Linked DNA regions of Homo sapiens: region 1 is linked to region 2. Evidence: fine-mapped expression QTL. A gene starts in region 2. The other region holds a variant in brackets. All regions are shown on one strand. Distances are between the middles of the regions. Region 1 holds the start of P3H1 (prolyl 3-hydroxylase 1). Region 2 holds the start of SVBP (small vasohibin binding protein).

The links. PIP is the estimated chance that this variant, and not a neighbour inherited with it, causes the effect.
Region 1: its variant is fine-mapped to the expression of SVBP in fibroblasts (GTEx, PIP 0.96).

What each region holds. Positions count from the first base shown.
Region 1 is chr1:42,766,475-42,771,789 of GRCh38, reverse strand. P3H1 (prolyl 3-hydroxylase 1) reads left to right here and starts at 4,762. Exons shown (of 15, transcript NM_022356.4): 1 at 4,762-5,283. The coding sequence starts at 4,819. C1orf50 (chromosome 1 open reading frame 50) reads right to left here and starts at 4,541. Exons shown (of 5, transcript NM_024097.4): 1 at 4,400-4,541; 2 at 4,166-4,281. The coding sequence starts at 4,478. RefSeq lists silencers at 4,254-4,393, 5,014-5,123. The variant T/A (reference allele first, on the strand shown) is at 3,218.
Region 2 is chr1:42,814,490-42,819,865 of GRCh38, reverse strand. SVBP (small vasohibin binding protein) reads left to right here and starts at 2,469. Exons shown (of 3, transcript NM_199342.4): 1 at 2,469-2,676; 2 at 3,286-3,435. The coding sequence starts at 3,322. ERMAP (erythroblast membrane associated protein (Scianna blood group)) reads right to left here and starts at 2,744. Exons shown (of 12, transcript NM_001017922.2): 1 at 2,613-2,744. RefSeq lists silencers at 2,326-2,615, 2,766-2,965, 3,526-3,595.

The DNA.
Region 1 (5,315 bases), 48 kb after region 2:
GCCAGGCTGGCCTCGAACTCCTGGCCTCAAGTGATACGCCTGCCTCAGCCTCCCAAAGTACTGGGATTACAGGCATGAGCCACCGTGCTCAGCTAATACATTTTACTTAACCTAATATATCAAAAACATTTTCATTTTAACATGTAATCACTATTTGTAAGTTGTTAATGAAATATTTTGCATTTTTTGTTTGTTTTTGTTTCTTTTTTTGGTCCTTCTCAGTCTAATCCATATTTTGCATTTGATATTAAGCCTTCAAAATATAGTGTTTATTTTGTACTCACAGCACATCTCAATTTGGATGCTAAATTTTCATCAGAAATACTTCATCTGTATTTAAACTTAATAAAATTTATATGTGAAAAAGTTGATTCACATACTCAAATTGTTCCAATATACTTGAGTTCCAATAATTGAAGTAATTATCAGGTTTTTTAAATTCAAATTAATTAAAATCAAATAAAATACAAAATTCGGTTCCTCAGCCACACTAACAACGTAACACAAGTGCTTAACAGACATAATGTTGCTAGTGGCTACCTAAAGCACAGCTCCAGTGAGTAATAGATACCAAAAAGTAAAGATGATTAAAGCTAATATTATATGTACTCATAACAATGCACTGTTATGAAGGAAATAACCACAATTATGTCGTAGAAGCAGGTTAAAGATAACAAATGAGTTAAGTAAAAAAGCTACTTCATTTTTATGAAGTTTAATAATAGGGAGTGGTGGGGAATTGGAAAGTATATGTAGCCTAGAGGTATTTGAATTCAATTTAATAATACTGTCATTTGGATGGGGTAGGGTACGGTCTTCTTCAGACAAGAAGGCCTCACCAAGGATATAACATTTGACTTGGGTCTAAATGAAAGGAGAGGACCGACCATGAAAAAAGCTGGAAAAAAAAAAGTTTGCAGGCATTTGAGGCCAGTGCAGCTGAAGAGTAGTTAGTGATGGGCAATGTGTAGAACAGGGTTTAAAAAGAGAGCAGAGACCAGATTGTGCAGTCTTGTAGCCCATGGTAAAAGAATTTGCATTTTGTTCCAAGAATGAAAGCCCAGGTGTGGTGGCTCACACCTGTAATCCCAGCACTTTGGGAGGCCGTAGCGGATGGATCACCTGAGGTCGGGCGTTTGAGACCAGCCTGACCAACATGGAGAAACCCTGTCTCTACTAAAAATACAAAATTAGCCAGGCATGGCGGCACATGTCTATAATCCCAGCTACTTGGGAGGCTGAGGCAGGAGAATTGCTTGAACTCGGTAGGCAGAGGTTGCTGTGAGCCAAGATGGCGCCATTGCACTCCAGCCTGGGCAACAAGAGCGAAACTCCATCTCAAAAAAAAAAAAAAGAAAGAAAGAAAGGAGGAGCCATATATGGCCAAGGAGAGAGTAGGTATTTCTAGAGCTAAGGTAGTTCCAGATTAGGGGTGGCCTTATAATAACCCTCCCTTTTCTTAAGGTGTTAGCAATAAATCTCATAAACAAAATTTGAATTTATATTTTGAAGAGTTAATATAAAATGCAAAATATGGATTAGTCTGAGGTCCAAAAAAAGGAAAAAAGAAACAAACAAAAAAAATGCAAAATATTTCACGAACAACTTAAAAACAAAAGAGCCTCATAAAAAAGAAAGGAAGGGAAGAGTACCTACAACTACTAAGCACTAACCCTGGCCTCAACTACTCTGAGGCCCTTTACATTCATCTCATTTACTTCTCACAACACCTTTATGACGCTGGAGATGATAACCTCACTTTCTCATTTTAGCAATTAAGACTCACAGACATGAGGCAACCTGTCCAAGGTTTCACAGATAATAAACAGCAAAGGATCTGAACACAGGTCAGATTCCAAAATTCATGCCTTAATACCAGGCCTCCTGAGCTTTCTGAACACACACCAATACCTGGGTCAGTCTTGCTAAAAAAGTACTTTTTTTTTTGAGACGGAGTCTTACTTTGTCACCCAGGCTGGAGTGAAGTGGCACAATCTCCACTCACTGCAACATCTGCCTCCCAGGTTCAAGTGATTCTCCGGCCTCAGCCTCATGAGTAGCTGGAATTACGGGCGTCTGCCACCATGCCCGGCTAATTTTTTGTATTTTTAGTAGAGACAGGGTTTCACTATGTTGGCCAGGCTGGTCTTGAATTCCTGATCTCGTGATCCACCCGCCTTGGCCTCCCAAAGTGCTCGGATTACAAGCGTGAGCCACTGCACCCAGCCCACCACCATTTTTTTTTCTTTTTAGACTTGCTCTGTCACCCAGGCTGGAGTGCAGTGGTGTGATCTCAGCTCACTGCAACCTCTGCCTCCCAGGTTCAAGCAGTTCTCCCGCCTCAGCCTCCAGAGTAGCTTCGGACTACAGGCACACACCACCATGCCCGGCTAATTTTTTGTATTTTAGTAGAGACAGGGTTTCACATGTCGCCCAGGTTGGTCTCCAACTCCTGAGCTCAGGCAATCCTCCCGCCTTAGCCTCCCAAAGTGCTAAGATTACAGGCGTGAGCCACCACACCCAGCCTCATTTTTTTGTTTTTTTTTAAGAGTCTCACTCTGTCACCAATTCTGGAGTACAGTGGTGCGATCTCGGCTCACTGCAACCTCTGTCTCCTGGGCTCAAGCGATTCTCATGCCTCAGCCTCCCGAGTAGCTGAGACTACAGGCATGAGTCACCACACCTTTTAGTAGAGACGGGGTTTCACCATGTTGGCCAGACTGGTCTCGAACTCCTGACTTCAAATGATCCACCCACCTTGGCCTCCCAAAGTGCTGGGATTACAAGTGTGAGCCACGGCACCTGGCCAAAAAGTACATTTTAGATAGTTAATATGTTTGATTCAATTTGTTTGTCTCTAAAGTTTTTTTTTTCTTCAGCTTCTCAAATACAGATTGTATTGGGGAAACAGAGGCAGCATAATAATGCATCCTCTGTATTTCATAAGATTATAGGATGAAAGACAAAAACTGTGTTCTTTCTTCCATCTGTTCAGGCCATCGTAATAAACACGATAGTCATTCAATAGCACATGAATACGTTGTGTGCACAAGATTCTGTCCCTGCCAACCTCCCTCCCAATAAGAGTAATCTGATTAACTAGATGCATATTCTCTTAATAAATAAAAGTTGCACTTTGCTCCCCAGCTCTTCAAAAAGAAGAAAGCCAAGTTTTGAATTAAAGGAGCTTTCTGCGTATCTGAATTTTTCTTAATTT[T/A]AAAAAAAAAAGGATTCGAAGGATTTCTAGGATCATTGAAAAAAAAAGAGATGTGAGGGAATTTGAGCACATTAAATAATTTTGGGCAAAGCAAAGACCCTGGAACATAATCAAGGCCAAATCTGATAGTGTATACAGGGATAAGGGGCCATGATAATCTTTAAAACAGCAGGACCCTCCATCTGTGGACACTGAAGAGGGTGTACAACTGGAAGTCTTGATAAGAGATAAGAAGGAATCTGGTTTTTCATTGAATAATGACAAAACTTTAGATCTTGGAGCTCTACTACTTCAAACCTTTCACTTCACAGATAAAATAGTTGAGGTCCAGAGAGAAGTAATCTGCCTTAAGTCGCACTGCAAGTTAGTATCAAAAGTGGGATTAATACTCATGTGTCCAAACTTCCAGTGTTTTTTCCATTATTTCACATTTCCTCCTTATTTGACTTATTTTGGCCATCCATATATAAACACTGGGCTTGGGAATACTGTGTTTAATGAGGACTAAACTTGGAGTCCTTGCCCTGCTAGAAGATGTTTAAACTCTCAGGTAACAAAGATCTTATGGGAAGCAGCTTAAAATAAGCGGACCTTGAAACTTCCCGAAGAACTTTTCTTTGTGTCAAATGGGAAGAATAACTCTGTACTGCCTACCTCACAAGGCTGTCCTAAGGTGCAAATGAAATAATGAACACTAAAGTGTTGTGTAAACCTTCCCACGAAGGAAGATTATGGGCACTCAAGTTGCAGTTAGAGGAACCTTTGGTCCCAGAAGGTCATTCGAATCAGGCCACCGACTCACAATGACAGTCGGCTTTACTCGTCTGTAAAATGGAGACAAGAGCAAATGCCACCCCCACCATAGGTGGTAGTGAGGTCTGAGCCGAAAGACGCAGAGTACAACGTGAACGAAGATGGTTATTCGCTGCCCCGGCCGCGCCTCCTCACCTTCTGCACCTGCTCTGCGAGCGCCACGAGGTCTAAGGGGTCCCCGGCCCGGTGGGTGTGGTAGGGGCTCACCAGGGCCAGGCCGCCGGGGGTCGGGGTGAGCTCCACCAGGGCTCCTGCGACACACACCCAGGAACACAAGCCGTGAGCTCCCGCCGTCGGCCTCCCGCGGAGCCCCGAGACCGGCTGCCTCGCGGGAGCTGACTTCCCCCTGCTGACTCCCGCCCCGCATACCTCCCTGGCCTGCAGCTGGCGGCGCTCCTTGCCTTTCAAGGACCCCCTCGGTCCGCCCCGGCGCGGCGGCGTCCTCCATGACAGCGCCTTATCCTCCCCACTCCCTGGGCTGTGCGAGTAGGAAGAGCCTGCGCATAAAGGCGCGTGGGCGGAGCTTCCGTCTTTCTTGTCTACTGGGCGTCAGTTCGACTGAGCAAGGCCTGAGCTCGGAGGCGGGGCTCCGGCTGACGCGCCGGGATTCGCTGAGGGCCGGTGGGGGGATCCGGGCTGACTGAAAGGAAAAGAGGCGGTGCAAGCCTCGTGGGCATGCGCCGCCCGGCTTGGAAGGTGGGGCTTCGCCCGGGGGCGGGCCTTCGCCGGGGGTAGGACTCCGGCCTTGGTGGCGGGTGGCTGGCGGTTCCGTTAGGTCTGAGGGAGCGATGGCGGTACGCGCGTTGAAGCTGCTGACCACACTGCTGGCTGTCGTGGCCGCTGCCTCCCAAGCCGAGGTCGAGTCCGAGGCAGGATGGGGCATGGTGACGCCTGATCTGCTCTTCGCCGAGGGGACCGCAGCCTACGCGCGCGGGGACTGGCCCGGGGTGGTCCTGAGCATGGAACGGGCGCTGCGCTCCCGGGCAGCCCTCCGCGCCCTTCGCCTGCGCTGCCGCACCCAGTGTGCCGCCGACTTCCCGTGGGAGCTGGACCCCGACTGGTCCCCCAGCCCGGCCCAGGCCTCGGGCGCCGCCGCCCTGCGCGACCTGAGCTTCTTCGGGGGCCTTCTGCGTCGCGCTGCCTGCCTGCGCCGCTGCCTCGGGCCGCCGGCCGCCCACTCGCTCAGCGAAGAGATGGAGCTGGAGTTCCGCAAGCGGAGCCCCTACAACTACCTGCAGGTCGCCTACTTCAAGGTGCAGACCTGCCTGGAACCAGGCGGCCGGGG
Region 2 (5,376 bases):
CCCTAATCCTAGGACAAGAGCTGTGAAGCAAGGCTAAGCAGAGGAGTTTGGAGCAAAGAGAGGATGAGTCTAAGGAGGGATGCTGCCAAGAAAAAAAAAAAAGACACTGGTAAATGACCTGGTTCACATCTGTAGTACCAGCCACTGAGGGGCTGAAGCGGGAGGATCACTTGAGCCCACCTCTGAAAATAAAAAATAAACAAGGGATGCATAGATCATTAAGCAAATAAAAATAGATAATTTTTTGACTCTAGAAAAAATATTATTCAATAAAGTGAATATAATCTTAGTGTAGTATATACCTCAACTGTAAAAATATTCTAGTTATATTACTATAAACTCTTGCTAGTCATTCAACAAACCAGGAAATTCTGCAGCCTGGCCAAGAGTCCACTGGTAGACACAAAAGAGACAGACAAAGCATAAACTCATGGAAAGAATAGAGAGGGGACTTTGACAGTGTTCAGCCTCAACATTCACTCCCTCCTGGCTCCAACCTTCACCTTCCCAATAAAGAATGTAGAATCCCAAACTGGTATCTCCAGTTCCGTTCTTTTCTGAAATCTTCTAATTGCTCACTGGACAATTCTTCTTGCCTATTGCCACTTGAAGCGTAATCTAGCTCTTTCTCTCTCTCGGTCCCTCTCTTGCGCGCGCGCACACACACACACACACACACACACACACACACACACGCTCCTAACTTATCCTCTTCCTCACCGTTTCCCAAACCAACTCATCACACCTTCTCCACTTTCAACAGTGGCTCAGTGGCACCACTACTTTTCCAGTCTTCCATGTGGCTTTTCCACTCCTCCATTCCCTATAGCTGGTTTGTTTTTAGCTGGCTTCTAAAGGTCCTGCCGTGTCTTCAGCTGTAATCTAGTTCATAGCTTATATGAACGTTATAAACCATACCATGTGACACAAATGTAAAATACCAGTACTACATCAAGATTTCTGAAATAGACTCTGACTTGGTTACTTTTATTAATAATAATCGAATCAGCATTTGTATAGGGTTTTTAAAAAGACATTTAATGTACTTTCCTCTGATTGCTAAAGTATAAACGTTTACTGTAGAAATTTTGGAAAAGCTGGGCGCAATTGCTCACATCTGTAATCCCAGCACTCTGGGAGACTGAGGCAGGAGGATCACTTGAGCCCAGGATTTCCAGATCACCCTGGGAAACACAGTGAGACTCCATCTCTACAAAAAAATTTTAAAAAATTAGCCAGGCATGATGGTGTGTGCCTGTAGTCCCAGATACTTTGGAGGCTGAGGTGGGAGGATTGCTTGAGCCCAGGTTACAGTGAGTTATGATCACACCACTGCACTCCAGCCTGGGTGACAGAGCAAGACCCCATCTATTTTTTAAAAATTAAATAAATAAAAAATAAACATTGTGCAGTAGATCTCTAGAACTTTTTCACCTTACAAACCTAAAATTCTATACCCTTTAAACAATTCCTCTTTTCCCTCTCTCCTAGCCACTGGCAGTCACCATTCTACTTTCTGTTTCTTAGACTTTGATTGCTTTAGATACTTCATATGAATGGAAACATGCAGTATTTGTCTTTTTGGGGCATTGTGCTCACTTTTAAGGCTTTTGATACCTAGTACTAAACTGACCTCCAGAAAGGCTGTTAACGATTTACAGTTTGACTGGAAGCGTGTGTCCATCTGGGCTGAGTTCATTGCTTGCTTAGCATCTATCAGTTGTTTCAATTCTTGCCAGTTTGATAGAGGAACAAATAGTGGACCCAAACAGGGTTTTACTTTGGATAAGGCCATTGTCCTATGAATCCTGGCTGAAATATTTGCTCCAGCACTTAGAAGCTGTGTGACCCGGGACAACTCACTTAACTTTTCAATGCTTCTGTTCCCTTATGTGTAAATGGGGATAATAATATACACGTATACATTATACACACTTATTATGAGGAATTAGTTAATAAATGTGAAGCTGTAAGAACAGTGCCTGGAATATAGTAAGCCCAAATGTAAGGTAGCTATTATCATTTTTGTCAATCCTTGCTAATGTAATACCTGGAAAATTACAGCCAGCTATTTTAATTTACATCTCCTCGGTAATCAGTTGAACGTGAATGTTCTCTGTATTTATACTGGCTATTGGTACTTCTGTCAAGATTTCCTTTTTCAAAGCACTGTGGCAAACGGGATCTCACTTGATCCTCCCAATAAACTCATGAATGAAGAAGGTGGCAATCATCAATCCCCACTTTTCGAATTAAGAAATTGAGCCTCGGAATTCGAATTCTGAGCAATTCCAATTCCAGGATTCGGATCTCACCCTCTAAAACCTAGTAGCTGTTGCAGAAAATATAACGGGAAAAAGCTTTGGTTAGCCGTAACCACCACCCACCCCGGTGTGGCTCCGCCCCTGCCCCGCCCCGGCACCGGCTTGCCCCGCCCCGCCCTCTACGCGGGTTTCCAGCCATCCTCTCTGCGCACGCGCGGCCGCTCCTGCGGGCGGAAGCCTCCTGGCGCTCGGCCCTGCGCCCCTCCCCCCGGCGCGCGGCCCCGCCCAGGACGAGGGGCGGTGGGCAGGCAGCGCTGGGTCCAGTGGTCGGGGGAAGGCGAGGATTACCCTCCCGGAGGCGTTGTCTGCGACTCGGCGGAGGCTCCAACTTCCAGTGGCCCGGTCGGGAAAGGTACAGACTCCCAAGCCTCTTGGTCGGCGGCTCCAGCGACCGCCATTTTCCTCCAGGAGAGGGAAGAGGGCAGGAGGCGGGGGCCGTCCCCTGGGGCCGGGCGGGCCGGGGCGGGGTCGGGGGGCCGGGCGGTGGGGGGCGGGCCCGGCTGGCTATGGGGCCCGGCCCCCTGGCCCCAGGAGCGGCTGCTGCGGCGGAGTTAGGCCGGCCGCAGTGGGAAAACCCTGGGCGCCCTCTGGGTCTCAGCGTCCCATTAGGACGGTTCCGCGCTGGGTGCCGCACGCCGCACAGTGGGCAACGCTTTCACAGGGGTCTTTGCATTTCACCCGCACACAGCAGCTCCTGGAGGGAGGCCAGGAAAACACTTAACCCATTTTGCAGACAGAAAACTAAGGCTCAAAGTGGGGAGGAGACTTGCCCAGGGACACCCAGCGAGGTTGTGGCCTTGGGACTCGGTTCCTACTCCCCCACATCCAGCGCCCTTGCCACCAGACCACTCTGCCTCACCTGGCAAAGGATGGGGCGGAGCTAAAGGATTAGAGGAGTAACTGGCAGGGTATTTTTTGTTTTGTTTTGTTTTGAAGATCTGCCTCTTTCTGTACCACCCAGATCAGAGCCTCCTAAGAAATATCCAGAAGTCAAGCCATGGATCCACCTGCACGTAAAGAAAAAACCAAAGTTAAAGAATCTGTCAGCAGAGTTGAGAAGGCCAAACAGAAATCAGCCCAGCAGGAGCTGAAGCAGAGACAAAGAGCAGAGGTGAGATTAAGGCGGAGGCTCTGTATGCCTGTAGTCTGCTGGAGATGATGCTGGAATAGAGAAACAGCAGAAAGGAGAACTGACAGCGAGCCATACTTGCCTCCAGGCAGGATGGGTGTTCTCCCAGGTTTAGAGGGGACAACACTGAGGTTCAGAATGGTGAGGTGGCAGCCCAGAATCACATGCCAAGTTAGTGTCAGAACCCCAGTCTGGTGCGGAGCTTTTGTGGTAAGAGACCCAAGGGAAGGAAGAAAGGAAAAAAAATGATATGTAAGGGGAAAGAAGGGGTCAGAATGAGAGAGAGCACGCAAGTGTCAGACACCCCCAGTACAGATGTTCTGGATTTGGTGCGGAAAGCAGCTACTCATGCCAGGTAGAGGCCCAAGCTTTAAACTCACCAGTGTGTTCCTTTGTTCTCTCAACGATTACAATCAACTTGAGAATAAAAAGCTTTAAACTTTACCCTGCCAATATTGAGCCACATACAGACATAAGTATTTTATTTTAGTATTTAATGTCAGGGAAAATCTTGCTGGTCTCTTTTTCCCTCTTTGTTTTGTTTATCTGTCTGCTTTGTTCATTTCCTGTCTTACATCCTTTTACTTCTCCATGGACAACTACTTTTTTTTATACTTTTACATTCAAATATATTAATAGATATCCTTGAACAATATACAGTAGTATTTTAAATTTTTACATTAATAAAATTCCTGCATTTTATTTTGCATTTTGCTTACATTGTTTTTTAGAACTATTCATGCCAATATAAGAATTTAGTTTATTCTCATTAATTTTTATAATAGTCTATTTTATGCATCCATTTTACTTAGTATATTTATTCATTCTTACAGAGATGCACATTTAAATTATTTATAGTATTTTTTGCTATTACAAACATTGCTGTAGTGAAAAGCTTTTAGGTGTCTCCTTTGGCACCTGCCTTAGAATTTCTGTAGGTTATTTAACTAGAAAAATTACTGGGTACATTCTCAATTTTACTAGACATTGCCACATTGCTTTTTTTTTTTGAGATGGAGTCTCTTTTTATTTTTTATTTTTTATTATTATACTTTAAGTTCTAGGGTACCTGTGCACAACATGCAGGTTTGTTACATATGTATACATGTGCCATGTTGGTGTGCTGCACCCATTAACTCGTCATTTACATTAGGTATATCTCCTAATGCTTTCCCTCCCCCCTCCCCCCACCCCACAACAGGCCCTGGTGTGTGATGTTCCCCTTCCTGTGTCCAAGTGTTCTCATTGTTCAGTTCCCACCTATGAGTGAGAACATGCGGTGTTTGGTTTTTTGTTCTTACGATAGTTTGCTGAGAATGATGGTTTCCAGCTTCATCCATGTCCCTACAAAGGACATGAACTCATCCCTTTTTATGGCTGCATAGTATTCCATGGTGTATATGTGCCACATTTTCTTAATCCAGTCTATCATTGATGGACACTTGGGTTGGTTCCAAGTCTTTGCTATTGTGAATAGTGCCATAATAAACATACGTGTGCATGTGTCTTTATAGCAGCATGGTTTATAATCCTTTGGGTATATACCCAGTAATGGGATGGCTGGGTCAAATGGTATTTCTAGTTCTAGATCCTTGAGGAATCACCACATTGTCTTCCATAATGGTTGAACTAGTTTACAGTCCCACCAACAGTGTAAAAGTGTTCCTATTTCTCCACATCCTCTCCAGCACCTGTTGTTTCCTGACTTTTTAATGATCGCCATTCTAACTGGTGTGAGATGGTATCTCATTGTGGTTTTGATTTGCATTTCTCTGATGGTGAGTCTCTTTTTTTTTTGAGACGGAGTCTTGCTCTGTCACCCAGGCTGGAGTGCAGTGGCGTGATCTCTGCTCACTGCAACCTCTGCCTCCCGGGTGCAAGCAATTCTCCTGCCTCGGCCTCCAGAGTAGCTGGGATTACAGG